7 linked regions of the Homo sapiens genome follow. The protein of the gene in region 2 interacts with the protein of the main gene of each other region in a pairwise test. Each region holds a gene or a part of one and is shown on either strand. Other genes may lie near its edges. The genes, in order: PLEKHG7, FGFR3, KIFC3, FCHSD2, SDCCAG8, DPPA2 and RABL2B.

Region 1 (4,324 bases), on a different chromosome or scaffold from region 2:
TGACCTCAAGTGATCCGCCTGCCTGGCCCTTCCACAGTGCTGGGATTATAGGCATGAGCCATTGTGCCCAGCCTGACCTAGCTGTTCTTTTAAAATTTACCAAGACTATTTTTGTTATTTCCTCACAGATTTCATATGGCAATGGAAATTACCTTCACATCATTTTTTTGCAAATGGCTTCATGCATCCCATTGATCTGCCTTTATGTCTGCCGGCTCCATCTAATAATCAGAGCTGGACCCAGACTTTACCTGCTCTAGGAAACATTCCTTGATTTAAGACTCACAAATATACATATAGTACATCCACCCCTGGTGCCTTCTCTAACCAATTATTTACTCAAAATCTCCACTTAGATGTTTCATAGTTCCTCAAACTCAACATGTCCAAACCTGAACACAAGACCTACACTCTAACCACTCATATTTAATTTCTTTACCCAAGTTTATCTAGGTCAGTGAATGGACACCTTGGTTACCCAGTTGAACAAGCCAGAAGCTTGGAGGTCATTCTTGAAGATTCCTTTCCCTCACCCTGATAGGCTACCATTCACAAAGTCTGGGGGATTGTATCTCCTAAATATCTCTTGCATTGAGATACTTCTTTTTAACCCCACTGCCTTCATCATAATCTAACTTAACAACTTCTCATACCTGAACATTCGAATTATTTGACTCAAGTCTACTTGCATCTAAATCCCAGGTATATCTGACATCCATCTGATCATATCAATTCATCAAATGGTTTCACACTGCTCTTAGGGTAAGGAATAAAATTTCTCAAAATCTTATTAAAATAATTCGACTCTAAACATAATTTTTTTTTCTAAGACTACCCTTTTCCACTTTCTTTGACACAACTGAACTAGATCTCATCTGAGAGCTTTATTCTGTTTCACATGTATGGAAGATTTACATTAACAGCCCCACTCTTCCCCATTCCTTACATCCATACACTTTGCCATGTAACATTTCAATGCTCTCCCACTGTTGGTAACATGTAATTCCCTGACGCTGAGTTCAACTGAGTGACTTGCTTTGGTCAATAAAATTAGACCAGATTCAGAGCCCAGGCTCCAAGAGGCCTTGCATGTTTCTACTTGTCCTCTTGAACCTCTCCCTTCACTGTATAAAGAATCTGCTTAATTGATCCCATGGACCCATGGGAGCCCTTTGATCCCATGAGCAGGATAAGGAACATTTGGAGTGGAACTGCTCAGCTAAACCCAGCCTAGACCAAGTCACCCCCAGGGAACACAGAGATTTATAAGAAACAATAACTGTCTGTTACTTTAAGTGGTTTTTTATCTAGCAACAGCTAGCTGATACACAGACATAACAATTTGCATTTCCCTATGGCTTGGTAAGTATCTTCTACCTTTGTTGGTACAATTAGGCCAACAAGGATTAAAATCAACAAAGAATGTGTACATGGATGTTATCCTTACTGCTATGAATATCAAACTATTGCTTGAGGATTGAGGTCCAGTAATAAAACAGCAGCTATTTCTCCAAAAAAATCCTCTGTGACTTTTCAAATGAAATGAGGGCTTTCCTGCCAATCCCACAAGTCAGGAAGATAAAATTGGGCATGGATCTTTCCCTTGCTGCTGCAGAAACTCTTCATCCCTGTCAGAGATGGCAGATCCATTGCTACAACCAGGGGGCCGTGCTGAAAGTTCAGAGCTGGTTTTGGAAATGACACAGTCTACTTCATTCTGGATAAGGGCACAGTCTGTCATAACAGGTTATTTTAAAGGTCACCCTAGATTTAACCAGGACATCTTGTTCCTTTCTTTTATCCTCCAAATTTTTCTTTGAAAAGCTGTTGCATATCTCTGGCCTTTCTATTTTCTCTACCAGACAAAACCTATTACTAAGTGGATGTTAATTAAGCCACAGGGCCAAGACATTGACAATTCAAAATGAAAACTATGACTGCATATGGCATTGTATCCTGCCCCCAAATGCTGTGCTCTTAAAGGGAGACTCTTGAAATGAAAACTCGTGCACCTATAAATGCGAAGAGTGACTTGAGTGCTATAAAACAAAGTGCACTGGTTAACACACCGTCAGCTTTGTTATGTCAGGACAGAAATAAAAATCTAATAGTAAATAGTCAACAGATGTCATAGCACCGGAGAAAATAAATGCATACACACCTGGATGGGTGCAATTCTTCTCCCTGAAATAAATTTTAAGAACATATGTTTTAGTCTTGCTCAAACCCATCCCAAACTCCAAAGCAAACATGTTGAAAGGAGAAACAATGAGCCCTCCTAGTTAAAACATGTTTTACATTTTGGTGGGATTGGAAATTTGAATAACTGGCTCTTTCTCCCCTTTTAAATCAGTGACACGACGTTGTCTTTAAATAGTGTGCATTTGCAAGAGGGCCCCCATTGCTCTCGGGTACCTGACAGACCATCGGTAAGCCTGGCCTTGGTGCATCCTTTCTCAAAGTGCCTCTAAGGACAGAAGAAAGTGAGCGAGATCATTTTCTTTCCTCCCCAGATTGCTGCCCTCCTTTCACTTAAGAGCCAATGCTTCCTAAAGAGAATGTGTCCCCTCAGTGTGACTTCCTGTGCTGTCTCCTTTTTAGGATCTACTGGCCCTTGGGGGAACTAAGCAACTCTGAGATCTATTTTGCTTTGTGGTTCAGCAACTGAGAGGCCGGAGGCTTAGAGCTGTGTTACCTGAGGACTAGGGTGTCGTAGGGTGGGGCTGGGCAGGAAGTGGCCTTCTTGCTGCCGAAGAGAGGCCTGGTGAAGGGACCCTTCATTGACAGGCTGAAGCTCAGGAGGGAGATACTTGTCAGTGGGCCGGGTTTGGGGCTCCAGTGAGTCAGCTGCATTCAGGGCCCTTTCAGGTTCAGAGGTCAATCTTGAGTGGAGTCTCAAGGGTGACAGCAAGTGTGAAGAATCCTTTGGGCTTCCTGGCAGGCTCTTCGAAAGGTAACATGGGAAGCCCACAGGAGCTCCCCAGCTTCCCCAGGTGGTCACCTGCCAGGCATCCTGCCTTGTCCCACAGCCACGGGTCCTTAATCTCCTCAAAGTGGGCGAGGTGGAGATGCGGCCTGGGGCTTGCCGGTCAAACTGGAGGAGACTCCCCTGGTTCTTTGGCAGGCTCCTCAGCGAGGGCCGAGGAGAGGCTCCACAGTCTTGGGGTGGCACCTCTGGACAGAATGACTCTGTTTTCTCCATAAAGCTAAGAGGTTCTACTGTTGGTAGAAGGTTCCAGAAGACGTATGAGTTGCTGTTCTCTGGATCACATGGAGGGTGCTCAATTTCTGCATCCAAGTGCCATGCTTCCTCTCGTAGTTCTTTTCCTTTTCCAGAGGAGAATGTCAAGCAGGTTATTGCATCTGTAGTGAGGAAGAGCAGACTGTGAAATATGTAGCAAATGAGGGAGACTGCAGTGAGAAAAAAGGTCTAAAATTTCAAAGGAAAACTTCTAATTCTTCATAGGCAATAGAGCTCAGTTCACATCAGCATCCTTTACGTTCAGAAGATAATTAATATACGTGACTCCAGCCTTCTCATCTAAATAGCGTATTGAAGTCTGTTTACTGTCTACTTAATATTCCTTCTAGGTTCAAACAAAAAAGCCTTTAAAAACTTTGGTAACTTAAGGTACTTCCTGGAAACCACATAGCTCCTCCCCTTGTGATTATTCCATTTTAAGAGAATCAAATATACATTAAATCCTCCTTATCATCTACATTTATGTATGTATGTACATATTGTGGTGCATTCTGGGGATGCAAGAACAAGGAAAACAAGCCTCCTTCCCTCAAGGTTTAAATTACAGAATGAGACAGGCTTTGAAGGTAACTGATGTAAAGTATCTGACAACGTCTTTTATCTTAGATTCTATCAATCTTTACATTTTGGAAAAAGGACTTGCAGGTTTGAAAAGAAAAACCCAGACATCACCAGGTACCCTACTGTTCATGATTGGAGGTGTTTTTTGCAATCTATGCATGCAGAATTATCTCTTCTCATGCTCAAGAAAAGCTGACCCTTCCATTTCACAGCTTGATTCATGGGAGTGGCTTATTGCAGTTTCGTTATTCTGTACTTTCCCACATGAAGAAGGTATGTGTGGGAAAACATCAATCCTTACACATCCCTTATGGCATGAGAGTTGATGCTTGATGATTTGCAGACCAGGTGTGGGACTGTGGGACAGGCGAGAGACCCATCTTCCCTGGCCGCAGATGGCATGGGAGGTGGCTTCAGACTGTGCGTGGATTGTTTGTGGATGGAACATTAGTAGTTGACCGTATATTCCAAGATCATCAATAATAGTTTTAGTAAGTTTAT
Region 2 (4,324 bases):
TCAGCCTCGTCCTCCCCGTCTTCGTCATCTCCCGAGGATGGAGCGTCTGCAAGGCAGAGATGGCCGCAACCAATGCCCAACCTGCCCCAGGAGGCCCCCAGGTGCCCCTCCCAGATGGGGCAGGGTCCCCCATTTGGGCAGCACTTCCTGGGGGTGCCCTCCTCTCCACCAATGACCAGAGAGACCCCCAGCCGCTCCTGACCCACGCAGGGACTCAGGGAGCCCGGCACTCGGCTCCTTTCTGTAGCTGGCGTGGCCCCAGAGCTCACCTGTCACCCGCACACTGAAGTGGCACAGTACGCGCTGCGTGAGCCGCTGCCGGCAGCTGTAGGCCCCGGAGTCCTCGTGGGAGGCATTCAGCACCTGCAGCCGCTGGGGCCCCACCAGGACACGCTCCGAGGGCACCAGCCCTGTGCCATCCTTGACCCAGACAGTGGGCCCCATGGGACCACCCCCGGGCGGGGGACAGCTCAGCTCCACAGCATCCCCGCTGCCGAAGACCAACTGCTCCTGCTGGCCGGGCTCTGGGCCCGGGACTTCTGTGGGGAAGATGGGCAACCATGAGGCAGGCACCCCCAAACCCGGCACCGTTTACAGACACAGCAGTGGAAGCCTCGGCGGCCCTGAGTGAGGAAGGCTCTGACCCAGATCCAGGGTCCCACCAGACCAGGGGCTGGAAACTGTGTCCCAAAAGGGCCAAAGGTCTCTATCTTCAGCTTTGCCAACCAGTCTGTCCCAAGGACTCCGGTCTGCCTCGGTGTGACAGCCGCCTTCCCCACACAACCTGCAGCCAACCCCACAGCAGTGGCCCCATGATGCTTCACTCATGGACACGGAGAATTCAAATCTCAAAGTGTCACAAAATGTGACTCTTCGTTCTTTTAATTTGTTCAATTGCTTGGAAACATAAAATCCATGCTTGTCTCACAGGCGGCACCACGACGGGCAGGTGCTGCGGGCAAAGGGGACAGGCTGCCCTTTGCTGGCCTCTGACTGAAATGGAGCTCAGAGGGGGTGCCAGGGTTGGCCAGCCAGCCCCCTCGTGGTGCAGATTCACCCCAGGAGGGGTCCGTCCTCAGTAGCCCCCGCACCCCATATGAGCCTGAAAAGCAGTTCAGATGGACAGCCAGGGAACAGAACAGGCGAGAAGGAAGGAGGTGCAGGGTCACGTGGCCGTGTGGACGGTCTGGGGGGCGATGCGCGGGTTCACCGGTCAGAGCACAGGCCGGAGCAGCGCGAGGGGGCCGGGGCGGGGGTGGGGGCTCCTTGGGGTGGGCAAGGTTCTGTATCCTGCAGCTCCTATGGAAGCTCCACACGGCGGTCATGACGGAAAACATACCGAGAAGAGCAAAGTACAAACACGGCGCTGGGTCCGGCCAAGTGGGTCTCACAGGCCGGGGAGTGGGGAGGCCCAGGCGGGCCCTCAAGGGGGCCGGGGGGTGGAGTCCTGCTGCCTGCAGGGGGACTGGGGCCCCCTCACAGAGGACGACCAGGCTGGGGGCAGGAAGCTGTGAGAGCCAGGGCAGGTCAGCAGCCCTGGCCCCTCCCTGGGGGCTGAGAAGCTGGGGTGGGGGCCCACCCACAGGGGCAGATGTGCAGGTGGCCCCTGGGTCCCTCCCCAGTAGCTGCCCAGCTCCCCAGAGCCACCAAAGCCTGTGACCCAAGGACACACCATGGGCAGGGCTGGGGGGACAATCGCCCCTAGGCTTCCCTGCCAGGGCCAGACAATGCATGCAGGCAGGCGTCCCGGGCTTGGGGCCGGGACGGGGGTGGGTGGTCCCCCAGGCAGCCTCCTTCTTCAGACCCAGCTGGGCGGGTTGCGCCATCACTTGTCATTCTGCAGACGCGTGGCCTAGATTCGGGGGCCCAGCTGCCCACTCTGGCCACACCAGTCCCTGGCTGCCCGGCCAGGCCCTCTTCTGCCCAACCCACCTGATCCAGCCACACACGCCTAGTGCCCAGGGTGACCCTGCCAGCCAGAAGGGCCCACACTCATCCCCTGAAGCATCCGAAGGAGCCCTCGCCCCACCGGGACCCACAGCTCAAGGACTGCCCCTGTAGGGACCCCGCAGTCAGGGGGGCTCCTGGCCTGACCTCCAGCCCTCCGGTCCTGGCCAGTGTCTTGTGGGGACCACCCAGAGCTGGGAGCTGCTCGAGGCCCCCCAGAAGGCCGAGAACAGGCTGGTTATGGCAGCCTCAGCTGCAGGCCCTGGCCCAAGGGCAACAGCCGGTTGGTTCCGGTTTGGTCTGAGTGGCGACAACAGGTCAAGCCATCCACACAAGTATTTGCTTCAGCCTGGTCCAGCACGGGGGGACGGGGGACACAGCAGCCCCAGGCCAGCCACACCAGTGGCCATCTGCCCGTGTGTGGTGGGGAGGGTGCAGCCCTGACTGCCCCCCCCACTGCCTGCCTGCTAGGTGCCAGCAGAGGCCAGGGTACCCCAGCAGGGGCTGGGTGGCGAGCACCAGGTGAAGGACAGTGTGACACGGGGCATGAGTGGGTGCTATAAGTTCAGGGTCTGACTCCCACTGGGAAGTCAGCAGTTGGGTGGAGCCCCCATACCCCACCCAGCTGCCAGGCATGGGGAGAGCTATAGCCCCCCAGCAGCCCTAGGAAGGGTTCTTTCTTTCTTGATCCACAAAAGGGAGGCCCCACTGACACCACACAGACACTGGTGCCCAAACACGTTGGAGACAAAACTCCTGCTGTACCCAAGGCGGGGTAGGAGGCAACGCGTCCCACCTCCCACCCTTCTATGGATCCCACAACACGTGCTCCTGCCGGCGCCCCAACCCCACACAGTGCCGACCTCAACTTGGGCTCCACATGCCAACGACAGCCCTCTGCTGTGTCCCAGAGTCTCCACAACTCTGCCACTCACTGGTCCTGTACCTCAGTTTCCCCCACTGTGGCACAAAGTAAAAATCCCACCCCACAGGCCCAGGAGCTCAGGGAGGGCACCAGGCCCTGAAATGGCTGCAGGAGTGAGGGTAGGGGTGAGAGGCGCTCCCTGCCCTGGGTCTCTGGCCCCAAGACTGATGTCCATTAGGCAGGGTGCTGGGGACGGCCAAACTCTGGCCTGGGGAACCTTTCTCCAGGCTCTGGGTCTCTGCAGTGGAGGCCCAGTGCATGTGAGGGAGCATGGCTGAGAGGATGGGGGAGCCTTGCTCCATCATAAGCCCCTCGGGTTGACCCCAGAGAACAAGGATCAAATCCAGACTCGCTTCCGGAGCTGGCTGCCCCAGGGGTTTATTTGGGTTTTGGGGTGAGATGAGGGCCTGGGGTCAGGAAACAACACATTCTGGTTTCGGATGCACATGAAGTTCTCTGCAGCTCTCTGGGGTACAGGAGGTATTGCCAGGTAGGAGCTATAAAATAGCCTAAGAGGAGGGGGCCCCCAAAAGTCCAGCCTCCCTGTCTCCCCACCTGGAGTTTCACAATAAAGTCCGGAAAAAAGGGATCTGGAGGCTGGGCAGGCTAAAGAGGGCTTGCCAGGGTTATCTGGCCTAATCCTTCAAACAGCCTGCCATTATCGGTTCTCTTGGACAGGTAAGGAAACTGAGGTTCGAAGAGGGCACCCGAGCCTGAGCTGGCAGCCTAGAGGTCCAGGCTGACCCCTACCCCACCAAAGGTGGCTCCACTCCTGGCTCATTCACTCCTGAATCACTCAGGTGAGGGCTGCATGCCTCCCTAGATGAGGTGACTTTAGATCCCCGTCCTCCAGGAGACCCCAAGCCCCTGGGCTCCCACTCAAGCTCAGCTGTAACAAGGGGTGCCACAGCCCCAGATCTAGCCCCAAGTGAGACCTGAGGGCTGGGGAGCTGGGGGGTGGGTAACAAGGGGTTCCTAGGCTCACACAAGGACCTGGAGGCCAGGCTCAGCCCAGGTTAATGAACCACCCAGAGGCCCACGCGGCTCAAAGTCCAGCCCTGCAGAGGAGGAGTGGGGGAGGTTGCAGCCAGCACCTTCGGGAAAGGCCCTGCACCCCCAGACCCCTGCTGGGTGGGGTGGGACTGTGGGAGAGCCGACCTTGTGTACCTCCCTGCACCCTGGGGGGTCACTCCAGGTCCCAACCAGGAATACGGCCCCCTGGGGAGATGGGGGCTGTCCTGGCAGGGCCTGGGGTGGCCAGGGCAGTCCAGTGGCCAAAACCTTTCCCACCGCCCTTGACCCCTGCGAGCCAAGGCTCCATAATTTATGTTCCCGGGCAAGCGCCAGCCTAGACCTCAGTCCATTTCACGAGGTCTTTGTATTTTTACTGCCCGGCCCATCTTGTTAAGGAACCGGATTAAGTTTATTGACCGATCAACTCACTACCTGTTT
Region 3 (3,500 bases), on a different chromosome or scaffold from region 2:
AGCACAGATATTTGTTTAAGGAGCTCACTGCAATCAGAAACAATACAGAGGATCTGTTATAAATAATTTATGGTAAGCCCTGAAGTAGACTATTACGCAGCCGTGTAAAAGAAAGAGGTAGGGCCGGGCGTAATGGCTCACATCTGTAATCCCAGCACTTTGGGAAGCCAAGGCAGAGCCCACAAGTTCGGGACCAGCCTGGGCAACATGATGAAACCTCCGTCTCTACAAAAATTACAAAAATTAGCCAGGTGTGGTGGCACATGCCAGTAGTCCCAGCTACTCAGGAGGCTGAGGTGAGATGACTTGGCTGGAGGTTGCAGTGAGATTCTACCACTGCATTCCAGCCTGGGCAACAGAGCCAGACCTTGCTCAAAAAAAAAAAAAAAAAAAAAAAAAAAGGGTAGTTCTCTATGTGTTGATGAGCATGAAGAGATTACCAGGACTTACTTGAGGGAAAGAGCTAGTGACAGAATAACATGTAAAATAAATAATAAAAATCATATAAATATGCACTGGGAACTGTGGCTCATGCCTGTAATCCCAGCACTTTGGGAGGTTGAGGCGGGTAGATCACTTGAGGTAAGGAGTTCAAGACCAGCCTGGCCAACATGGTGAAACCCCATCTCTACTAAAAATACAAAAATTAGCCAGGTGTGGTGGCACATGCCTGTAGTCCAGCTATTCGGGAGGCTGAGGCATGAGAATCGCTTGAACCTGGGAGGTGAAGGTTGCAGTGGGCTGCAATCATGCCACTGCACTCCAACCTGGGCAACAGAGTGAGACTCTGTCTCAAAAAAAAAAAAATCATATAAATATGGCTGGGTGCACTGGCTCACACCTGTAATCCCAGCACTTTGGGAGGCTGGGGCGGGCAGATCACTCGAGGTTAGGAGTTCAAGACCAGCCTGGCCAACATGATGAAACCCTGTCTCTACTAAAAATACAAACATTAGCTGGGCACGGTGGCACACGCCTGTAATCCCAGCTACTTGGGAGGCTGAGACAGGAGAATCACTGGAATCCGGGAGGCGGAGGCTGCAGTGAGCTGAGATCATGCCATTGCACTCCAGCCTGGGCGACAGAGCGAGACTCTGTCTCAAAAAAAAAAAACAAAAAAAGAGTTCAAGACCAGCCTGGCCAACATGGTGAAATGGTGAAACCTTATCTCTACTAAAAATATAAAAATTAGCCAGGTGTGATGATGCACACCTGTAATCCCAGCTACTCAGGAGGCTGAGGTAGGAGAATCACTTGAACCCGGGAGGCGGATATTACAGCCAAGATCACGCCACTGCACTCCAGCCTGGGCAACAGAGTGAACGAGACTCCATCTCAAAAATAAAAATCATATAAATTTAATTAAGTGGTTCTATATAGGAAAGATAAACAAATAAACACCAAATACTTAATAGTGGATTTCTCAAAGATAGAGGACTAAGAGAGGCAGTTTCTGGATAACTGTATCTCTGCCCTGTTACAAGGCTAGTTGTGTTGAATGGTCGAATATGTGACCAGCAGCGAGTAACTTAACCTCTCTGAGCCTCCACATCCTCATCTATAAAGCTCAGATCAAATACTGTATCCTGAGATTGTTATGAGTATGATGAGGACTAACATGAGATCTTTTAATGCCTGGCACAGAGTCCATGTTTGATAAACAGTAGCTCTTATTACTATTATCGTTATGTATTATTTCTATAGCCAAATATACATACATATGTAAAGTTTATCTTTTTTCTTTTCTTTTTTTTTTTTTGAGACAGGGTCTCACTCTGTCACGCAGGCTGGAGTGCAGTGGTGCAATCACTGCAGCCTCAACCTCCTGGGCTCAAGCGATCCTCCCACCCCAGCCTCCTGAGTAGCTGGGACTATAGGAACCACCATGCCCAGCTAATTTTTTATTTTTCTTTTTGTAGAGATAGGGTCTCACTATATTGTCCAGGCTGGTCGTGAACTCCTGGGCTCAAGCGATCCTCCTATCTCAGCCTCCCAAAGTGGTGAGATTACAGGCCTGAGCCACCGCGCCTAGCCTTACTTTGTCATTTTAAAGTCACTTGGTGATAACTGCAAGGGAGAAGACCCCAAGTTTTAGTGAATCCTCCATCTAGCTTTGAATTCTCACTTCAAACAAGGAAATATTCCCAAGGAAATACAAGGAAATACTCACATAACCATGTTTCAGAATAATCAACCACCCCAAACCTGCCTGTTTTCCCAATACCTTCTCCAAGCTCTGCCCATCTCAGCTAAGGCCCCATGCTTCCCATTTTAACACCTCAGCCAGGGCATGGCTGAAAAGCTCCTGTCAGCTCCTATGAGATTTCCCGTCTGACTTAATAAAGCAGGCTCCCAGGCAGAGGGGTCATGAGGGGCCCAACAGAGAGGTGCGAGGTGGGTCCCCGGCTCTCCCCAGGTGCTTCCTACCCCCAGAAGCCTGGCAGGAACCCAGCCACTGGAGCTCAGAGAGCCAAGGCACATGCAGCCTGGAAGGCCCCAGTGCTTACCTGCAGGGTCAGGTAGAGCCCGTGGGGGCTTCCGGGGCCAGCCCAGTCCACGCTAAGGGCTCGGCACTGAGCTAGGGCTGGGCGAGCTGCACTTCGGGCACTGGAGTCCTCGTCACCGCAGACTGGGGTATCTTTTCCACGCCCTGTCCCAGGACAGAGAGATAGGTGAGACACTCCGACCACTGGCCAAAGACTGCTAGCCATGGACCACTGGCCAGGGCCGCAGCTGAGCTCAGCTTTCACACATCCCTGGCTGGTCCAGATGTGGCCAGGAGGGGCTCACACACCCAAAAAACGCCTGCCCTGCAGAGGGGAAGGCCTGGCTCGGGGCAGTGGCTACGCTCCTTCCTTACCAAAAGCCGCCCAAAGATTCTCTTCTGGAAGGGGCCCAATACCCCACCGGAGGCTCCCCTATCCCCACAGTGGCTTTTGGGGCAGGCATCTGCTCAGCAGGGAAGTGGAAGGAAGCCATTGCCAGCCAGCCTGCATGAAGCTTTGAGGACTTGCACAGGGGCTATGGCTTTATTACCCCGGCTGCCTCTAGGTGGCAATTTCTTCCCTGACTTCATTAAGACAAAATCCAAACCAGGTGGCCCAGCCTCCGTTGCCTCCCCAAGCGTATTCAGAACCAGCTAACGTGCATCCCCTTGTGCCTCTGACACACCGCCTCCCTCACCCATGGGAGAGAGGGCGGGCTGTGGCAGCAATGCCCCAGCCACCCACCTCCACCTGCAGGGCTGAACAGGGTGGGATGGGGGCCAGCCTCACGAGTCATGAGGCACACTGCAGAGCCACTACCCTGGGGCGTAACAATATCCCGAGTGCCAGCCACTGGGCCAAGTGCTTTTCAGGCCTTACACACATTCTGTTTTTTTGGGCTTTTTTGTTTTTTTTTTTTTTTTTTTTTTTTTTTGAGACAGGGCCTCTCTCTGTTGCCCAGGCTGGAGTGCAGTGGTGCGATCTTGGCTCACTGCAACCTCCACCTCCCGGGTT
Region 4 (3,500 bases), on a different chromosome or scaffold from region 2:
CTTCTGTTTCCTTATGTAGCCAACATGATCTGATTAATTCTCAATCAGATGAGCAAAAGCCACTTGAAGAAAGATGAGAATCTTTGCCACATCCTTGTGGTCACAGTAATATACTGTACGAGTGCACATGATCAGTAATTTAGGGACTGTGCCCTGGAATGAGGCCTGTTCTTGAGTCTCATATAAAAACAGACCACTGTTAGGCATGAGGGCTGCCCCCCTCTTTGCTCCTAGGGTCCGCTAGGATTTGTGCTATGGTAGGAGAAATGACATAGAAAATGACAACAAAAAAAAAAGGCACGAAATATTCAAAACGTGGGAGGAGTCTACCAGGCCACCCAGTCACACATAATCCTCCTTGTTTTTTGCTCTGTTCAAGAGTCATCATCATGCAAAGGTGCCTAAAAAACAAGACTGGCCAAACTCCAAGCCTGGCCTTGATTGTAGCAGTAATGGATGGGCAAGCCCATCATCACACCAGTGTGATTTCCACATCTTCAATCTTCTCTGCTGGCCTTCGGTGATTCTGTGTAGGTGGAGGGGGAGCTGCCCGGACCTGAGCAGGAAACAATTACGTAGTTTGTCAGTCAGTTCCTGACTCAGTATCTGAAGCATCCCCAAAACCTAATCACTCATCTGTCCAAGGACATGGGCACCCTAGGGGTCTCAGAAATGTTGTGAGCACGTGCTTTCAACCTAGTCTTCACTATTTCCTACACTGAGAAGCAGTTGTTCTCAATGAAATATCAAGCCCACAAATCAGCTTCTTGCCTAGGCTAAAAACCTCATGGGCACAAGTCCTATGACTAAGATCCTAGCACATCCTCCAAAGCAAAGGTCTGGCTGGAAGCAAGGGAGAGCAATGCTTAGAGAAATGAAACATTTCAGTGTGTCTTGGGTAGAGAGTTACAAAAGAGAAGGCTAGAAAGGTAGGCTAGGGTTAAGTTGTGAAGGGCCTTGTTAAACCATGTTTAAACATCTGCTTTAAGAAGAAAAAAATAAATCTGTGCTTTATTCTGTAGGCAAAAGAGGAGTTTTTGGTGGATTTTAAGCAATATCAGATCTGCGAAAAGATGACTCAGGTAACAACTGGAGAAAGGATCAGAGGCAAGCAAGAGTCCAAGTAAGAAGGCAACTTAGGAGACTTTTGTAATCCTCTGAATGAGAGTTGACAATAGCCCAAACGAGGGTACTGGCAGTAGGGGAAGTAGAGAAGTGGAAAGATTTGCGAGCTCTCTGCAAGGTATACCTGGCAGGATTTGGGAATGACTGTGGGAGGCAGGGGCAGGAGGTATTAAGAATGATGCCAGAACACCAGTAGGATGGGGGTTCCATTTACCAAGATAGGCAATATGGGAGAAGGAACATGTCTGGAAGGGAACATAACTCATTTTTGCTGAGTTTTGGGGATCTGGGATATATAAACTGAGATATCCACACATCTGAAGCTCAAGAGAAGAGATCGGATTGGCAGTTATAAATCTGAGACTTGCTGGCATATAAATGGTTATCATAGCTGTGGAAGTAGATGAGGTCATTCGGCAAGAGTGCGTTCAACAACTTCAAGAGAAGCAGCCCAGTGACAGAACCATGAGAATTATCAGCAGAGACAGGTGGCGGCAAGGCTGCAAAGGTCCACAGAAAGGTAGGACCAGAGAGGAAGAAAGCAAACGAGGCAAATGTAGAGAAGCACATCAGCCCACTGCTCTCTCTTCCCACTCTTACCCACCAGTCCATCTTGCCACCACTTCTTTCTTGGATGCTGCTCCAGCCTCCTAATCGCTCCCTATATCCTTTCTGCCACCCTCCATCCATCCGCCTCTTAGCTGCCATAGCGATGCTTTAAAAATGCACCAGCCACAACACTGTCCAGCTTACCACTTTACAATGGCTTCCTGTCTCATTTGGGATAAAGACTCAAGTCCTTAAGAAGGCACTCAATACATATTTGCTGAATGAATGAAGCCAAAAGAAGCCAGTGGTAAAGGAATGGTATCAAAAGCTAATAGGGGTCAAGGAAAATAAAATTGCAAAGTATCCGACTGGATTACCGTGCAAGTTATGACCTTGGAGTACAGTGGTGGGTGGAATGCAGATGGCAGTAGAGTGAAGGGTGAGGAGAGGTAACTTTGCAATAATATATTCACCCGGAGAATAAACGCTCTTTAAGGCCATGAAGTTAGCTTATTATTTCATCTTGGTATTCCTCAAAGAGGCAAATAGAGGCCTGGAAAATTAAATGCTTACTGAAAAAAGTGTTTCACAATTAGCCCGCTTTAATGCTCATAAAGTTTGTTCTATTCTAAATCACTTTCATAGCCATCATCTTGCAATCTCACTGTGGCTCAGTGAAAAAAGTTCCAGTGTAGATTAAATGTCCCGAGATGAGTTGATTTCTATGGCCTTCCTTTTCAATAGCTCTTTTTACCTTCCCAAACCCAGTTCATCCTTGTTTGGCATAGTCAGTAACAACACAGGGGCCACGGGGAAACATTAATTCCTTACTTTCAATTTGGAAGAACTATGCATTCGATAATCCTGCAAGATCAGAGACTTACAGGTCGCAGTTTGCCATATGAGGTCTCAGGAGTATGCCTTGATGCCTGTGAGAATCCTGGTGACTCAGCATGAAGGCTTTTTTCTAAGGGAGAAAACCAAAGAAGCTCATTTTACTTGAGTTGTTGAGCAATAATGCTGATGCAAGGCTGGCATGGTGGCTTGAGCCTGTAATCCCAGCACTTTGGGATACTGAGGCGGGAGGATTACTTGAGGCCAGAAGTTCAAGGCTGCAGTGAGCTATGATCCCACCACTGCACTCCAGCCTGGGTGACAGAATAATACCCTTTGTCCAGAAAAAATACAAAAATTAGCTGTGTGTGGTGGTGCATGCCTGTATTCCTAGCTACTAGGGAGGCTGAGGCAGGAGGATCACTTGAGCCCAGGAATTGGTTGCTATGAGCCGTGATCATGCCACTGAACTCCAGCCTGGGTGTCCAGCCCAGGTGACAGAGACTCTGTCTCCAAAAAAAAAAAAAAAAAAAAAAAAGCAAATGCAGTTTTTTTTTGCCCTTCAGGCGAATATGTAGGTTTCTGAAGTGAAAATGCATTTAGACCCATGCCCAGGAGAACCCTTACCGTTTGCTGAAGGAGACCGGGGAAAGTACAGGGAGCTCCTCTTATCTGGGCTGGGGTAGGGGCTGCTGGGAGGCTGGTCGTACAACGGCAGTGGAGGCAGGGAGGCGTGTGGCTTGGGGGAAGGAGAGATCTGCAGCAAAGGGAAGCGAGGTTACCCGGTGCTCCCCTCCAGGAAGGAGAGCCTGGCTGCTTCTCTGACTGCTCTGTACTCATGCCTTTTCTCTAAAGCTAAGCTGATTGTTGAAACTTGTCAACCTCATTAGAGGCAACTGAGCATTAAATAACCACCTCAAGCTCCAATTTTGCATTGCACTTCACTTTTTCCTCTTACAGATCTCATCACATTACTGATTTTAGTTTATCTT
Region 5 (4,324 bases), on a different chromosome or scaffold from region 2:
AAGATGAGGCTTGGGTGTGACATGGTATAACTTTTATTGCATTCTATTGGTTAATGCAGATTACAGGCCCAGTCAGTTTCAGATTAGAAGAGAACAAGGGAATGAGGCTGGGTTCCTTGGAGGCTATTTTTTTTTTTTTTTTTTTCTGAAACAGTCTCGCTCTCTTGCCAGGCTGGAGTGCAGTGGTGCGATCTCGGCTCGCTGCAACCCCTTGGAGGCTATTTTTAGAGATGAACTATCACAGTAATATACCTTAAAATACTTCATTTTAGACAGTTTTTGTGTGTTCTAGGGGTGGTCAGTTGCACTAACCAAGAATCTATGAGGTGTGGTTGGCCAGCAGTATATAGAAAGAGCTGTACCGCCGGGGCTGCCACTATAAGCACTTCAGCTATGCAAATTTTGATCAAAACTAGGCCAGACATGTGGATGTCTCTTGGTGGGGGAGGGATTTCCTGTCCCCAGGGACAATGAGGCTTCCCTAGGTTGGAACTGGGTGTGACGCAGTCCCTTTTGCTGGCTCTTCCCACCTCCCCACTGCTCCTTTCGTCCCCCTCTGTCTCCAAGTTGGTAAAGGAGTCAGGCATGGTGGGAAGGAGAGCACTTCCCTTAGCAAGTTATTGTTTAATGGGAGCTGGTGGGAAGAGTTCTGTCATTTAATCCTTGCCGGTGGTGCTATATGTAGTGAAATCAACTGCTACAGTGGTAGGGGCCTTAGAGATCATCAAGTCCTACCTCTAAACCATGAAGTTAATCTTCTCTCACCATCTTTGGCACATCCCTCAGCAAGCTAGAAACAGAACTCTGCGTTTTTTCCATAAAGTACGAGAAATAATGATTTCACCTTTAAAAACTGCCTTCCTGAGTAAGTGTCCGTTTGGTCAACCAGACTCCATGGGTCCTAACTTTCGTCAGGTTGTTCTTGCAGAACATGCCAGCAGAAGCATTCACCAACTGACATGTGCCCTGAAAGAAGGCGATGTCACTATTGGAGAAGATGCACCAAATCTTTCTTTTAGCACCAGTGTGGGAAATGAGGACGCCAGGACAGCCTGGCCCGAATTACAACAGAGCCATGCTGGTGAGTGTGAATGTCAATCCTAGTCTGAATGATGCATAGTGAATTTTTTAAACTCCGTAGAATAATAACTCCATTCATTCTTCATTCTGCTGCTATGATGTTATTCCTCAAACACAAATCAGATAATTTAATTCCCTCGCTTAATCTTGTTTTCCTTTGACTTCCCAATGCTTATAGGCTAAAGTCCAAAATTCTTAGTTATAAAATAACAGTGTTTTCCTAAGATAGCTCTAACCTGCCTCTTCGGCTCATCTTTGTGTACTTCTCATGCTAATCATCCATCTCACAACTCATATTCTAGTTATAATAACCTCCTCTCTATGCTTTTATGCTTTGACATGTGCAGTGACTTCTAACTGGAATTTTTCTTATCCTTTTCTGCTTGGTGAACTCCTTCCTGTTTATCCTTGCAGTGTTATCTCCTCTGTGAAAACAAGCACAATTAGCTTCTTCCTCTTCTTGTAGCACTGTGCATAGCTTTAGGTCTACATACAAACTTATTTTATATCTATTAGTGTCTCTCTCTTCCTTGCTAGATTCTTAGCTCTTAAGGGGTAGAAATTCTTTTTTTTTTTTTATGTTGGTCTTGTATCCCCAGTTGATAGCAGAATTCTTGATGCATAATATATCAGCAATTTTTATTAGTTGGAAGGATGGATGGGTGGTAAGAAACCATGGATCTCAAATAAGGTTAATAAACCCTCTGCTTTTGCTCTATAGTTAATCAGCTCAAAGATTTGTTGCGCCAACAAGCAGATAAGGAAAGTGAAGTATCTCCGTCAAGAAGAAGAAAAATGTCCCCCTTGGTAAGTATCAACTTTTCCAAGTTGACAAAGCATTCCTGTGTTTTACTGTATTGTGTTATTTTGTAGTACATGTTGCAGAAAAAATTTAAGCATGGCATACTAATAGTGAAAAACATTAAAAGTAATTCTCTTCCCTCTGATTATTTTGGCTGAAAAAATAGATTTCCATGGCAGAGGGAATCTTGATTTTTTAAATTTATTATTCACTTGGAAAATGGGAGCAAGGGAATAGTTTGGAGAATTTATTTTGCAACTGTTAGCAAAATATGTAATATAAATATATAATATATAATAAATTAATATAATAAATTATATGTCAGAATATATGTAAAAGATAAAGTCATTATTTTAGTAATTTCTTTTTTAGAGGGTCATATCTATTATTGATCATTTTTAGAAGTTACTTAATTATAATTGTAGCCCTACTTTGTAATATTTTTTAAATTTTGAGTGTCAAAATAATACATTTTATTTTTAATTAATTAATTAATTTTTTTGAGACAGAGTCTCATTCTGTTGCTCAGGCTAGAGTGCAGTGGCATGATCTCGCCTCACTACAACCTCTGCCTCCCTGGTTCAAGCGATTCTCCTGCCTCAGCCTCCCTAGTATTTGGGTTTACAGATGTGCACTACCACACCAGGCTAATTTTTTGTATTTTTAGTAGAGATGGGGTTTCACCATATTGGCTAGGCTGGTCTCGAACTCTGAACCTCAGGAAATCCATCAGCCTCGGCCTCCCAAAGCACCGGGATTATAGGTGTGAGCCACCGCGCCTGGCCTCAAAATAATACGTTTTAATATGTAATGTTCTATATGTTAAAATATATGGTTATAAAATAGTATGATATATAAGAAGTGGTGCTGTATTTCTTCTGAAGTTGTTTGTTATTGCTTTGACAGAGTGTATTATTTCTGATTAAAGCATTTTATATGCTAAAGGCTGAGATAGATGTGAGTGAAAGCACTCTGGACCAGATTTAAGTGGACAAAATAATAGTCAAGGGCTTAGTTCTATCTAGGGTCTATCACATACTCTCTAAGATATTGTGCCTGTCTCACAGAGTTTTTGGAATAATGAGATAAGATTACATACTTAAAATTCTTTAGAAACCTATGAAGTGTTACATAAACATAACATGCATAGCAGCAAGTAACCACCTCACATTTTCAATGTGTTTTCTAGTTCAATACAATGCCTGTATGCTGAAAAGTGTGGAGACATGTCACTTTCTTTTCTTCACCACTGAAATATCAGAGTATCACTCCCATACGAACACTCCATTCCAGGCTGACACATACTTTTAAGCTTAATTCCTACTTTAGAGAAATGTACTTCATATGCATATTCTAAATTTATAGATACAGATTTTATAATTTTAGTAAAACATCTCATCATTTAATGAATTTATTACTATTGACATCTGGTTTCTAGCTTGCTCTTAAGCACAGACTGGTGGAATGCTTTTAAATCTACTAGATGAAGTTGCTTTATCTGTTGAATGCTCAGACATGCTTATTTGCCTTTTAAAGTCTGAGCAGTGATATTATGGAGCTTACTGAATCCAGACAGGCAGGAAGACCTTCACTAAGAGAATCAGTTTAGTACATACAGAGTGCACTTTAAAATACACAAGTCTATTTATATGGAGCTATGTAAAAGAATGGAACTTAGACTCTATATGTATACAGCCTACATGTAATAATTATAAACCATAATAGTAATAATTAGCTTTTTAAGATTATACCTTTAGAATGCACTTTCATAGCCAGTATAACATATTAGAAATACATGCATATATTGAGAGTAAAACTGAGGCACTGTTGAGATGGAAAAAAAGTTATTACTTATTGTCTTAAAATGTAGATATCTAAACTAAAGCCCTTCAAAGTAGACACAAATGATTTCATGTGAACATTTTTCATACAATATTGGCTTGAGCTTTTTATTTTTCACATTGACTTCCTCCTGTATACTCATAGTAGTAATTTATATTTGCCTATCTTCTGAACCTATTGCTATTAATGGAGGATGATTATAATTGTTTGATTTCTACTCAGGACAGATAATTCATTTAATTAGAGTTACTTTGGTTTTTAAATTTCTTAAATATACCAAAAAACCAAAGCTCTATTTTATTTTATTCTGCCATGATAGCTGGTACTTGATTATCATTTAAAATGTCTGCTGTGCTGAGAAAGAGAGTGGCTGAGAAACAGACACTGTGCCTCATTTCAAGCTTTCCTCTGGCTTTGTTTAACTGGTTGACCCTTGTTTTACCTTTTCCTGATTTCCTCATCCTTTAAAAAAAAAATTATGTGATGGGTATATGATTTTACAAACTATTTTAGGATAAGGTAAGCTATACATTAACAGTCAGTTCCAGGAATGCTACAGAGCTAAAATAGCATTAGCGTTTTTTTGAAATCTCTTCGTTG
Region 6 (5,043 bases), on a different chromosome or scaffold from region 2:
CCTCTGAGCTTTCTGAGCTCCAGCCACACTGGGCTCATTTCAGCTCCAAGACCTGAGGAGAGTGTATCTGTTTTACTCTCTGTTGCTTTCACAGAAACACAGCAGTCTACACAGAGTAGGCATTCAATGTTGTTTTTATGATCTGATGAATAAAAGATAAAGTAGAAAAGCAGGTAGATAGAAAGAAACTAACATTTACTGGTTCTCTACAGTACACAGGCACTATGCTAGGTGTTCTTTATTTCTCAAATTTAATTCTCATAGTATACTTGTAGTAATTTATTAATTTTCCTGCTTTACAAATGAGGAAACTAAATGAGCAATGCCATAGAGTAACACAGGCTTGAGTATGGTTCTGAAGTTAGCTTTTCTTCTCAAATCCAAGGGTGAATAAACTCCATTCCAGTCCTATTGCAATATTCTCTTCTAGTGCTGATGCCACACTCCTGTCTCCTATTTAACCTCTTCAGTAGTTTCCCATTACTCTTAGTTTACTTCAAAATAACACTGACATTATTTAGGGAATACTACTCTATTACAGAGAAAAGTAGGGGCTCAAAGCAGCTATGTGACTTCCCCATAATCATATAGCTAATATTGGCCAATTCAGTCCTTTAGCCAGAGGACGGGTACAGTGATGCCTGTAAATACACTATGACACCTCCTCTAGTTTCTCATAGAGCCAGGACTACCCAAGCCTAATCTTGAAACTCATTTGGTACCAAGGCCACTGGGAGTAGATATTTCCTACTCTGAAAGAAAGTAACCAATTGGTCACTTTACTTTATGACTTTATCCACATTACCGCCTTCACTTTCTTTTCACCTTTGCTTTTAAAAAAAAACTTATTTTTAATTTTTAATTATCTTTTCTCTAATATTATTATTCTCCATGCCATTTTTATTTATTTATTTTTACCATTTTTATCTTGTCCAGCTATAGCACTTCTCATCTTTCCTACCAAAGAAATATTTTCCTTTGGACTAAGAGGAGAAAATTTTACTTCTTTTTACTCTCATCCAAATGCACATAAAAGCACAATCACATGAAAGAAAACTAACAATCTATTTGCAAAGAAGAGGAGGTTTCAAGATGGAGATTTCTTACATCCAGGAATGAAGATTTGTGGTAAAAGAGAAACATAAGGGAGACCTAGAAAGACTCTGAAAAGCGACTGTGAGAAAAGTAATTCTATTAGAATGAAACTTACCTTCTTGCTGCTATCCAAATTTGCATCTGACATTTTCAGCAACACCCTGGGGAAGGCAAGGACAGCAATGTTAAGGATATGGTAGTTTACTTCTCTTAACCTGCTTTCTCCTTTTATAAGCAAATGTTTCCTTCTACTTCCTGTTACCCAGATGAGCTCTTGTTTTCCTTTCCTCCTCTTTTTGCCCTCCCTCATTTTCTGGTAATGGGATAATTTTATCAATTTTATACCCTGTCTTGTCCATTCAGTGACAATGTTTTTTTAAAAATTAGGCTGGGTGCGATGGCTCATGCCTGTAATCCCAGCACTTTGGGAGGCCCAGGGGGGGCGGATCGATTGAGTCCAGGAGTTCGAGATCAGCCTGGGAAACATGGCGAGACCCCCATTTCTACAAAAAAACACAAAAATTAGGCGGGCGTTGTGGCGAGCGCCTGTAATCCCACCTACTCGGGAGGGGTTGGTGGGAGGACTGCTTGAGCCCAGGAGGCGCAGGTTACAGCGATCCGAGATCGCACCACTGCACTCCAGCTTCGCGAGACTCTGTCTCAACAAGTGAAAGAAGGAAAGAAAGAAGAAAAAAAAATAGGTGAAACTTGAAAGAAAACTGAAAATGACAAACACTTGTTGACAAGTTCCAATGGAATGAACAGAATGTTTTAGAACAGTTATAAGACGATATTGGTAACAAATTACTTATTACGAAGGGAATGGAAAAAAGATTCAGAGCATTTTACGCAGGTATTTTATACCTGATTTATGCACGGGGGTATGTTACTCACTGAAAGATTCCAGATTTAAATTGTGGGGGTTGGATAACATAATCTCTCTTCGATCTAGTTCTAAATACAAATATTAAGCCTGCAATAATATTGAGCTGGTTGGAGGAGAAGGATTTGGCTGTTCAGAATAGCAACAAGAGCCAAAACACCAAGGCAAGTGGTGGAGTAACGAAGGCAGAAGGAACGATGCACTTAGGAATTGCTGGAGCCTAATGTTGGACACGGAATGTGGCAAAATATGAAGCAGGTGTTCTCATAGGTCACTCTAAGAAGCCAGAGCAACTAAAGGAAATTTCATTCACCAATAATATGGCAGCACTGGACAACCAAGTACCTTTACAATGGGCTTTTTCTGTCCCTGGGAAAATGATTTGGTCCATTAATCTCAGGACCCAGGGTGACCATGGTCCATTTAAGTTACTAGTGTATTTAACACATTCAAAATATTGTCTGGACCTGGCACGGTGGCTCATGTCTGTAATCCTTTGGGAGGCCTTTGGGAGGCCGAGGAAGGACGACCACTTGAGTCCAGAAGTTCGAGACCAGCCTGGGCAATATAGTGAGACCTCATCTCTATGAATAAATAAATAAATAAATAAATTTACAAAAGAAAAAAATGTAGTCTGAAAAAGCTCAGCTTCAGTTTACTGAGGAACTGATTGGAAAAATAAATTATGAGGCCCCACCCCACCACCCAAGACATCCTGAATCAGATCATGGAGGGTGAGGCTGAGGGGCTGAGGAATCTGTGCTTCCACAAGCCCTCCAGGTAATTTTTTCTTTTTTTCTTTTTTTAGACAGGCTCTGACGCCCAGGCTGGAGTGCGGTGGCGCGATCATAGCTCACTGCAGCCTCGACCTCCTGGACTCAAGCGATCTTCCCACTACAGCCCATGCCGTCCCACCCCCGCCCCTCCCCCCACACTCCAGTAGTTGGGATTACAGGCCCGCGCCACCACGCCCCGCTAATATTTAAATTTTTTGTAGAGAGGAGACCTGGGATGGAAGGAGATTGCGGGGACGGAGAGGATGTGGGTAGGGGGCCTCACTGTGTTGCCCAGGCTGGTCTTGAATTCCTGGCTGAGTTCCCAGACTCAAGTTGATCCTCCCTCCGCAGCCTTCGGAGTGGGTGGGACTACAGGCCTGCACCGCCACGCCCAGCCCTCCGGACGATTCTTAAGCTCCTGAAGTCTAGAAGCCTTAGCTAGATCAGGCCATAAACAAAGGGCTTTGGAGACAGGCAGTCCGCGGCAGATAATGATCGGAATTCCGGCTCCTCCCTTCCAGGGTGGAACCTGAATGCAGCCCTCTAAGATGCAGCCAGGAAAGCACTCCGCCTACCCGGTTGGGTGTGGCCCCTGGTGCTTTGAATGGGCAATTTAGAGGAAAGCTGACCTAATGGCCTGAGTTGATCCTAATGCCTTAGGTAGGGACAGGATTTCGAGTGGGAAGACCATTTCATTACCATGTTTTCTTTTCTTCATTGCATTTTTTACAATATAATCATTTTAGGCCGGGCGCGGTGGCTCACGTCTGTAATCCCAGCACTTTGGGAGGCGGAGGCGGGCGGATCACCTGAGGTCAGGAGTTCAAGACCAGTCTGGCTAACATGGCGAAACCCCGTCTCTACTAAAAATACAAAAATTCGCCGGGCATGGTGGCACATGCCTGTAATCCGAGCTACTAGGGAGACTGAGGCAGAACAATCGCTTGAACCCGGGAGGCGGAGGTTGCGGTGAGCCGAGATTGCGCCATTGCACTCCAGCCTGGGCAACAAGAGCGAAACTCCGTCTCAAAAAAAAAAAAAAAGTAAGAAAATCTATGAAAATCTATGGGAAGAATCTATATTGGAATAGCTTAGGGAAACTTTAGAGAAGATTACACTTTTTGAGGAAGAGCTTACCAGTCGTGGAAGTAGTCAATACAAACAGGGAACAGACTCCCTAGCTACTCGGGAGTCTGAGGCACGAGAATCGCTTGAACCCAGGAGGTGGAGATTGCAGTGAGCCAAGATCACGCCACTGCACTCCAGCCTGGGCGACAGAGAGAGACTCTGTCCCCCCAAAAAAAAAAAAAAAAAAATCTTATTTGTTTTCCTGGGGTTTTTTCCCCAGCTTTTTGAGAATGTTTTATTATGGGAAGGTTCAAACATGTACAAAAGTGTGTCTACTTTTTGTCATAGTAATTTACTTACAGCCAGTCTGGTTACATCTAAATTGCCGTCCATTCCTCCTCCATGGGTTATTTTGAAACAAGTGCCAGATCGCCTATGATTTCGTTCATAAATTCAGGGAAAAGGCCGGTGCCATGGCTCACACCTGTAATCTCAGCACGTCAGGAGGCCGAGGTGGCAGGAACAGTTGAGCCCAAGAGTATGAGACCAGCCTCGGCAAGATAGTGAGATCTCATTGTTACCAAAAAAATAAAAATGAAAATAAAAATAAAATAACCGGGCGTGTGGGTGTGGTGAGACATGCCTGTGGTCCTAGCTACTCAGGGGGCTGAGGTCAGAGGATCCCTTCAGCCCAGGAGCCCGAGGCTGCAGTGAGGCTGTCTCAATAAATAAATAAATAAATCCAGGGGGAAAAAATACTTCGTTCCTATTATAACTACGATATCCTTTTTACATCTAAACATAATTTAAAAAATCATTATTTAATATTATCAAAGTATTCAAATATATGTTATGTTCAAATATCCAGCAGTATTCAAAACTCCAATTATCTGGCTGGGCACCGTGGCTCACGCCTGTAATCCCAGCACTTTGGGAGGCCAAGGCAGGTGGATTACCTGATGTCAGGAGTTTGAGACCAGCCGGCCAACATGGAGAAACCCTGTCTGTACTAAAAATACAAAAATTAGCCAGGCATGGTGGCACGCACCTGTAGTTCCAGCTACTGGTGGGGGCTGAGGCAGGAGAATTGCTTGAACCCAGGTGGTGGATCTCAAAAAAAAACAACAAAAAAAAAACTCCATTTATCTTATATATTTTTCTCTTCCCTCATTTTCTTTTTTTTAACAATCTATTTGAATCAGCGTCCAATCAAGGTCTGTG
Region 7 (4,324 bases), on a different chromosome or scaffold from region 2:
AAAGCTTTTGGAATTTTTCAAGGGATTTTGTTCTCAAGGGGCAGTCGGGGGAATTAGGTGATGAGTTCCTTCCTTTACCATCTGCAAAGGGTCAGAAGGGAAGAATCCTCACTGTCCTCACCACTGGTATCTGTACTGTGCCTACCAGTCAGTCAGTTCCTGGGGGCAGCACGTGTGTCTTTCCACCTGGGCACTCCCAGCATCCTGCACACGTGCATCACAGACAGTCCATGTTGTGGAAGGGATCAGTGGTGCAGGAGCACACACGAAAGAGCTAAGCTAATGACAAACATCAGAGGAGGCTGCACGGAGGTGGTGGCATTGAAGCAGGGCCTGAAAAATGAGCAGAGTTTCAAATAAAGGGGTGTGAGCTGGGGAGAGGCTGAGGGAAGAGCATGAAGGAAGGTGTGCAGAGGAGCAGGTGACAATGAGCAGAACAGAGCAGCTCCTTCTGCATCCCCTCTGCTATTGCTTCTTACAGATGAGATGACACCTGCTCAGCCATGCATCTCTCTCAGTGCCAAGGTAAGGCCGTGCGTATTTACAGACAATCACTAAGTGGGAGGTAGGGCTAGAAAGGTGGGTGTCTAAATGCTATGGGGTGCCATGGCAGACTTTATTTTTTTTTTGAGACGGAGTCTCGCTCTGTCGCCGAGGCTGGAGTGCAGTGGCGTGATCTCGGCTCACTGCAAGCTCTGCCTCCCGGGTTCACGCCATTCTCCTGCCTCAGCCTCCCCAGTAGCTAGGACTACAGGCGCCCGCTACCACGCCCGGCTAATTTTTTTGTATTTTTAGTAGAGACGGGGTTTCACCGTGTTAGCCAGGATGGTCTCGATCTCCTAACCTCGTGATCCGCCCGCCTCGGCCTCCCAAAGTGCTGGGATTACAGGCGTGAGCCACCGCGCCCGGCCCGTGGCAGACTTTATTAATGTATGCCAACAATGGTGGCAACCTGTCCATCCCATGTGTTCTTTTAACCATATGATTCTGGTTCCCCACTGAGAGATGCCATCTGTTTCTTCCCTCTGTGACTATGGACAGAGAGATGCCACATATTCCAGGGCTAGGCCATAAAAGGAAATATAAGTCCCACCGGGTTCTCTTTGGATACTTGATCTTGGGATCTTGGCTGATACTCTGTGAGCAAACCCAAATCAGCCCAAATGACAAACTGCGAAGAAACACGGGGAGTAGAACCTGCTGGTGGTCCAGCCAAGTACCAGTGTGTGTGTGTGGGGAGATGCCCCAGGCAGTTCCAGCCTGGAACCCAGCCTTGGAGTCTTCTTAGCTGAGACTTCAGACATGGATTCCCGATCCATCAGAAAATGGTTGTTTTGTACCGCCAAGTTTTGGGGTTTTGTGTTAAAGCAAGACCTTGAATGCTATTCCAAGAAGTTTTAGTGACCAAGGTTTTCACTTGGTGACAATTGCTAGGGTTAATAATTCAGAAGACTAGTCTATTACTTTCTGCATTGTTGATGGCTGATATTCATGAAAATGTGGGTTTTTTTTAGATGGAGTTTTGCTCTTGTTGCCCAGGCTGGAGTGCAATGGTGTGATCTCGGCTCACTGCAACCTCTGCCTCCTGGGTTCAAATGATTCTCCTGCCTCAACCTCCCAAGTAGCTGGGATTACAGGCACCCGCCACCATGCCCGGCTAATTTTTTGTATTTTTAGTAGAGACGGGATTTCACCATGTTGGCCAGGCTGGTCTCAAACTGCTGACCTCAGGTGATCCACCCATCTTGGCCTCCCAAAGTGCTGGGATTACAGGCATGAGCCACCGTGCCCAGCCATGAAAATGTTTTTTAAGTGACCCAAAAGAAAAACATGCTCCTTTTCAGCATTTAAAAGTGGTGGCCTGAGAACCCAGCCAGGGAATTCACGGGTAGGAACTTCTACAGGACACAGGTATACAGAGCTCCTTTTTCCTTTCTCAGCCCTTTCCTCGGCTGCATTTTTCTCTTGGAGCGACTGCTTCACCACACCCGGGTCACCAGGGGGAGCCGTGAGGACTGCGTCCTGGGCAACACAATGGGAGGCTCGGGGGGAGGCGAGGGGCTGGCCTGAGAGAGAAGGTTCTCTGGGACCCGCAGCATCTACTCAGTCCCAGCGTGCGCCCCCTAGGGAAAGGCAGCAGGCAACAGTGGAGGGAGGCCTTGGGAGCTTGTCTGACAGGTTAGGTCCATCAGAGGGACGGTGGCCCTGTTTCAGGCATGTTTGCCTCTTGGATGCTACACCTGATGTTGAAGCCCTGAGCTTGCTGTTCCACCTTTTCTCCACCCATCCCCGCCTACAGAGAGCTCACCTGGCACCTTCTCACTAAGAAGCTCTGGGGAGCAGGTGTGGTTTGAAACATCCCCGGGTGACCCTAAGCCCCCCTCCCACAACACCCAGACTTGGTTACAAGGGCCCAGGGCTGCTAGGCCCCTCACCCCTCAGGCCAGACTTGCCCAGTGCCTTTGTCCACCTCCCCACCGTCTCGTACCATGATGCAGGCGTGGGCCTTGTGGTAGTAGGAGGCATGCATGCTCTGGAACCGCTCCTGGCCTGCCGTGTCCCAAAAGTCTGCAATGTGAACACAGACAGACCTACATGCCTGGTGCACTTCTGTGCAAGTCACTAAGATACAACACACATGCGGCACAAACCACAGCACATGTGTGAGTGTACATGGGGAGCACAGGGAGAAACAGAGACTATACAGCCCCACACGTGTGTCTTCAAGACACAGTGTACCTGAGTGTGATGTGAGAGGTGTGTCTTCACCTGTGTGTATGGGAAGACAGTGGGTCAGGGGCCAGGAGGAAGGACAACACACTGGAAGCCCAAGGAGGGAGAAGACAGTTCCCCGTTTCCCACGTGACACGCAGGGTCCTCTAAGTTCCAAACTATTCCAACTTCTCACGTGCGCTGACCACAGACGGTAGACAGAGTCAGGCAGGCTGTGTGCCCGGCCAAGGAGAAGATTATGACCCGATGGAAGGTCGCAGCCCGATGTGGGAGATAATGTTCTGACCACATTTATTTTTTCAAACTGGCTGAGTAACAACCCCTGAAGCTAGGAAAACTACTGCCTCGTCGAAGGCCTCTTACGTTCTTCTTCCCTGAGGTGGGTACAGCCCCCTGACTTCTCCTTTCCTGAACCCTGTCCTGCACAGGTGCTGGCCTGGACGCCAGGTCAGAGGGCTGGGACTTGGCCCCTGCATGCCCCCTTCCACCCTCCTGGCTCCTGGCTCTCTGGGTTCTCTCTAGCACCCCTTGTCCCTGCCTGGGGTCTCATTTTCTCCCTCTGGACTCTCTCCTTATGAACCTTCCCTCACCTCCCCTCGTCTCCCATTTCCTCTTTCCTGAGGGTCAGCATGTCTTGGCCCTGTGCCACTTACCCACAAGGATGGTCCTTCCATCTACCGTGGCTGTGTGCTTGTACAGGGTCAGGGCGTACGTGGACAGCTGCTGTGGCTGACTGCACTCAGGTTAAGGAGCAAAATCAATAAAAGGGGAGGTAAGGAAGGAGTGGGGAGCAGGGGTGTTTGGTTTGATGAAATGGATCCTCTCCCTCCTCTTCTCTTTGGAGTTATTGAGATTTTAAATCAAATGAATGTTGCAGACAGAGGATCAGCTTCACATATCACTGGTACAAACTCCATGGAAGGGTGAGGGGTGGGAGGAGATGGGAGTGTGTCCTGGCCATCGAAGTCTGAGGTAAAACACAGAACAGGATTTTACAGACAAGTGTCATAAAAGGCATCATGCAGTTGGAAAATGCAAATGTGGATACCCCAACTCAATCATGGATGGAGCTTTCGCAGGCTAGAAAGGAAACCCTAACCCTAGGTAGCAACATGACCATTCCAGGGACAAAAGCTCCCACAAGCCATACAGCTGACAAGCTGTCAATCAATTTGGAGTCTGTCTATGTGTGAAACCCTGAGAAAAAGGGTTAAACTCTGGGGATTAACAGCTTCCGAGGCTGCAAGAAGCCGGACAGTGTAAAAAGCAGAGCCAAATGACGCAGGTGGGCTGGGTGTGCAGGAGCACTTGGTACAAGGTGGAGTAACACATACTCAGATCTTAAGGCAACTGAGCCTTGGGGTGCCGAGCCTAGGACAGGCAGCAGCAGGCTCCAGGGGCTCCTCTCACCTGTGGTTCTCAGTGGATCCACTTGGGAAGCTGTTTAAAAATCTCCCAGTTGCGGGGAGGAACTCACTCCAAACCTATGTAATATAACAATTCATGGGAGAAAGGTGGGGCTGGCAGCTCCTATTTTACAAAGTTCATTCATATCAGAGATTTTTTTCAATAGTAGGGGGCCCAAGCTTTG

The links.
Region 1: the proteins of FGFR3 (region 2) and PLEKHG7 interact in binary tests that used the Homo sapiens proteins (3 or more experiments, as listed by UniProt).
Region 3: the proteins of FGFR3 (region 2) and KIFC3 interact in binary tests that used the Homo sapiens proteins (3 or more experiments, as listed by UniProt).
Region 4: the proteins of FGFR3 (region 2) and FCHSD2 interact in binary tests that used the Homo sapiens proteins (3 or more experiments, as listed by UniProt).
Region 5: the proteins of FGFR3 (region 2) and SDCCAG8 interact in binary tests that used the Homo sapiens proteins (3 or more experiments, as listed by UniProt).
Region 6: the proteins of FGFR3 (region 2) and DPPA2 interact in binary tests that used the Homo sapiens proteins (3 or more experiments, as listed by UniProt).
Region 7: the proteins of FGFR3 (region 2) and RABL2B interact in binary tests that used the Homo sapiens proteins (3 or more experiments, as listed by UniProt).

The regions. Positions count from the first base shown.
Region 1 is NC_000012.12:92,705,510-92,709,833, reverse strand, and holds part of PLEKHG7 (pleckstrin homology domain-containing family G member 7), read right to left. Parts: intron 3,364-4,324; coding exon of another isoform or gene 3,203-3,363; coding exon 2,696-3,202; coding exon of another isoform or gene 2,681-2,695; exon of another isoform or gene 2,185-2,680; coding exon 2,162-2,184; coding exon of another isoform or gene 2,119-2,161; exon of another isoform or gene 1,285-2,118; intron 1-1,284.
Region 2 is NC_000004.12:1,795,469-1,799,792, reverse strand, and holds part of FGFR3 (fibroblast growth factor receptor 3 isoform 1 precursor), read right to left. Parts: intron 540-4,324; coding exon 270-539; intron 47-269; coding exon 1-46.
Region 3 is NC_000016.10:57,792,492-57,795,991, forward strand, and holds part of KIFC3 (kinesin-like protein KIFC3), read right to left. Parts: intron 2,651-3,500; coding exon 2,508-2,650; intron 1-2,507. UniProt on the Homo sapiens protein: Minus-end microtubule-dependent motor protein. Involved in apically targeted transport. Required for zonula adherens maintenance.
Region 4 is NC_000011.10:72,838,319-72,841,818, forward strand, and holds part of FCHSD2 (F-BAR and double SH3 domains protein 2), read right to left. Parts: intron 3,266-3,500; coding exon 3,136-3,265; intron 2,642-3,135; coding exon 2,559-2,641; intron 557-2,558; coding exon 473-556; 3' UTR 1-472. UniProt on the Homo sapiens protein: Adapter protein that plays a role in endocytosis via clathrin-coated pits. Contributes to the internalization of cell surface receptors, such as integrin ITGB1 and transferrin receptor.
Region 5 is NC_000001.11:243,269,177-243,273,500, forward strand, and holds part of SDCCAG8 (serologically defined colon cancer antigen 8), read left to right. Parts: intron 1-915; exon of another isoform or gene 916-928; coding exon 929-1,081; intron 1,082-1,801; coding exon 1,802-1,887; intron 1,888-4,324. UniProt on the Homo sapiens protein: Plays a role in the establishment of cell polarity and epithelial lumen formation. Also plays an essential role in ciliogenesis and subsequent Hedgehog signaling pathway that requires the presence of intact primary cilia for pathway activation.
Region 6 is NC_000003.12:109,313,300-109,318,342, forward strand, and holds the start of DPPA2 (developmental pluripotency-associated protein 2), read right to left. Parts: upstream 3,219-5,043; 5' UTR 2,985-3,218; intron 2,438-2,984; exon of another isoform or gene 2,324-2,437; intron 1,682-2,323; exon of another isoform or gene 1,455-1,681; coding exon of another isoform or gene 1,441-1,454; intron 1,257-1,440; coding exon of another isoform or gene 1,244-1,256; coding exon 1,211-1,243; intron 1-1,210. UniProt on the Homo sapiens protein: Binds to target gene promoters, including NKX2-5 and SYCE1, but not GATA4, and may be involved in the maintenance of the active epigenetic status of these genes.
Region 7 is NC_000022.11:50,773,284-50,777,607, forward strand, and holds part of RABL2B (rab-like protein 2B), read right to left. Parts: intron 3,467-4,324; coding exon 3,387-3,466; intron 2,569-3,386; coding exon 2,489-2,568; intron 1-2,488. UniProt on the Homo sapiens protein: Small GTPase required for ciliation. Activated in a guanine nucleotide exchange factor (GEF)-independent manner via its intrinsic GDP for GTP nucleotide exchange ability.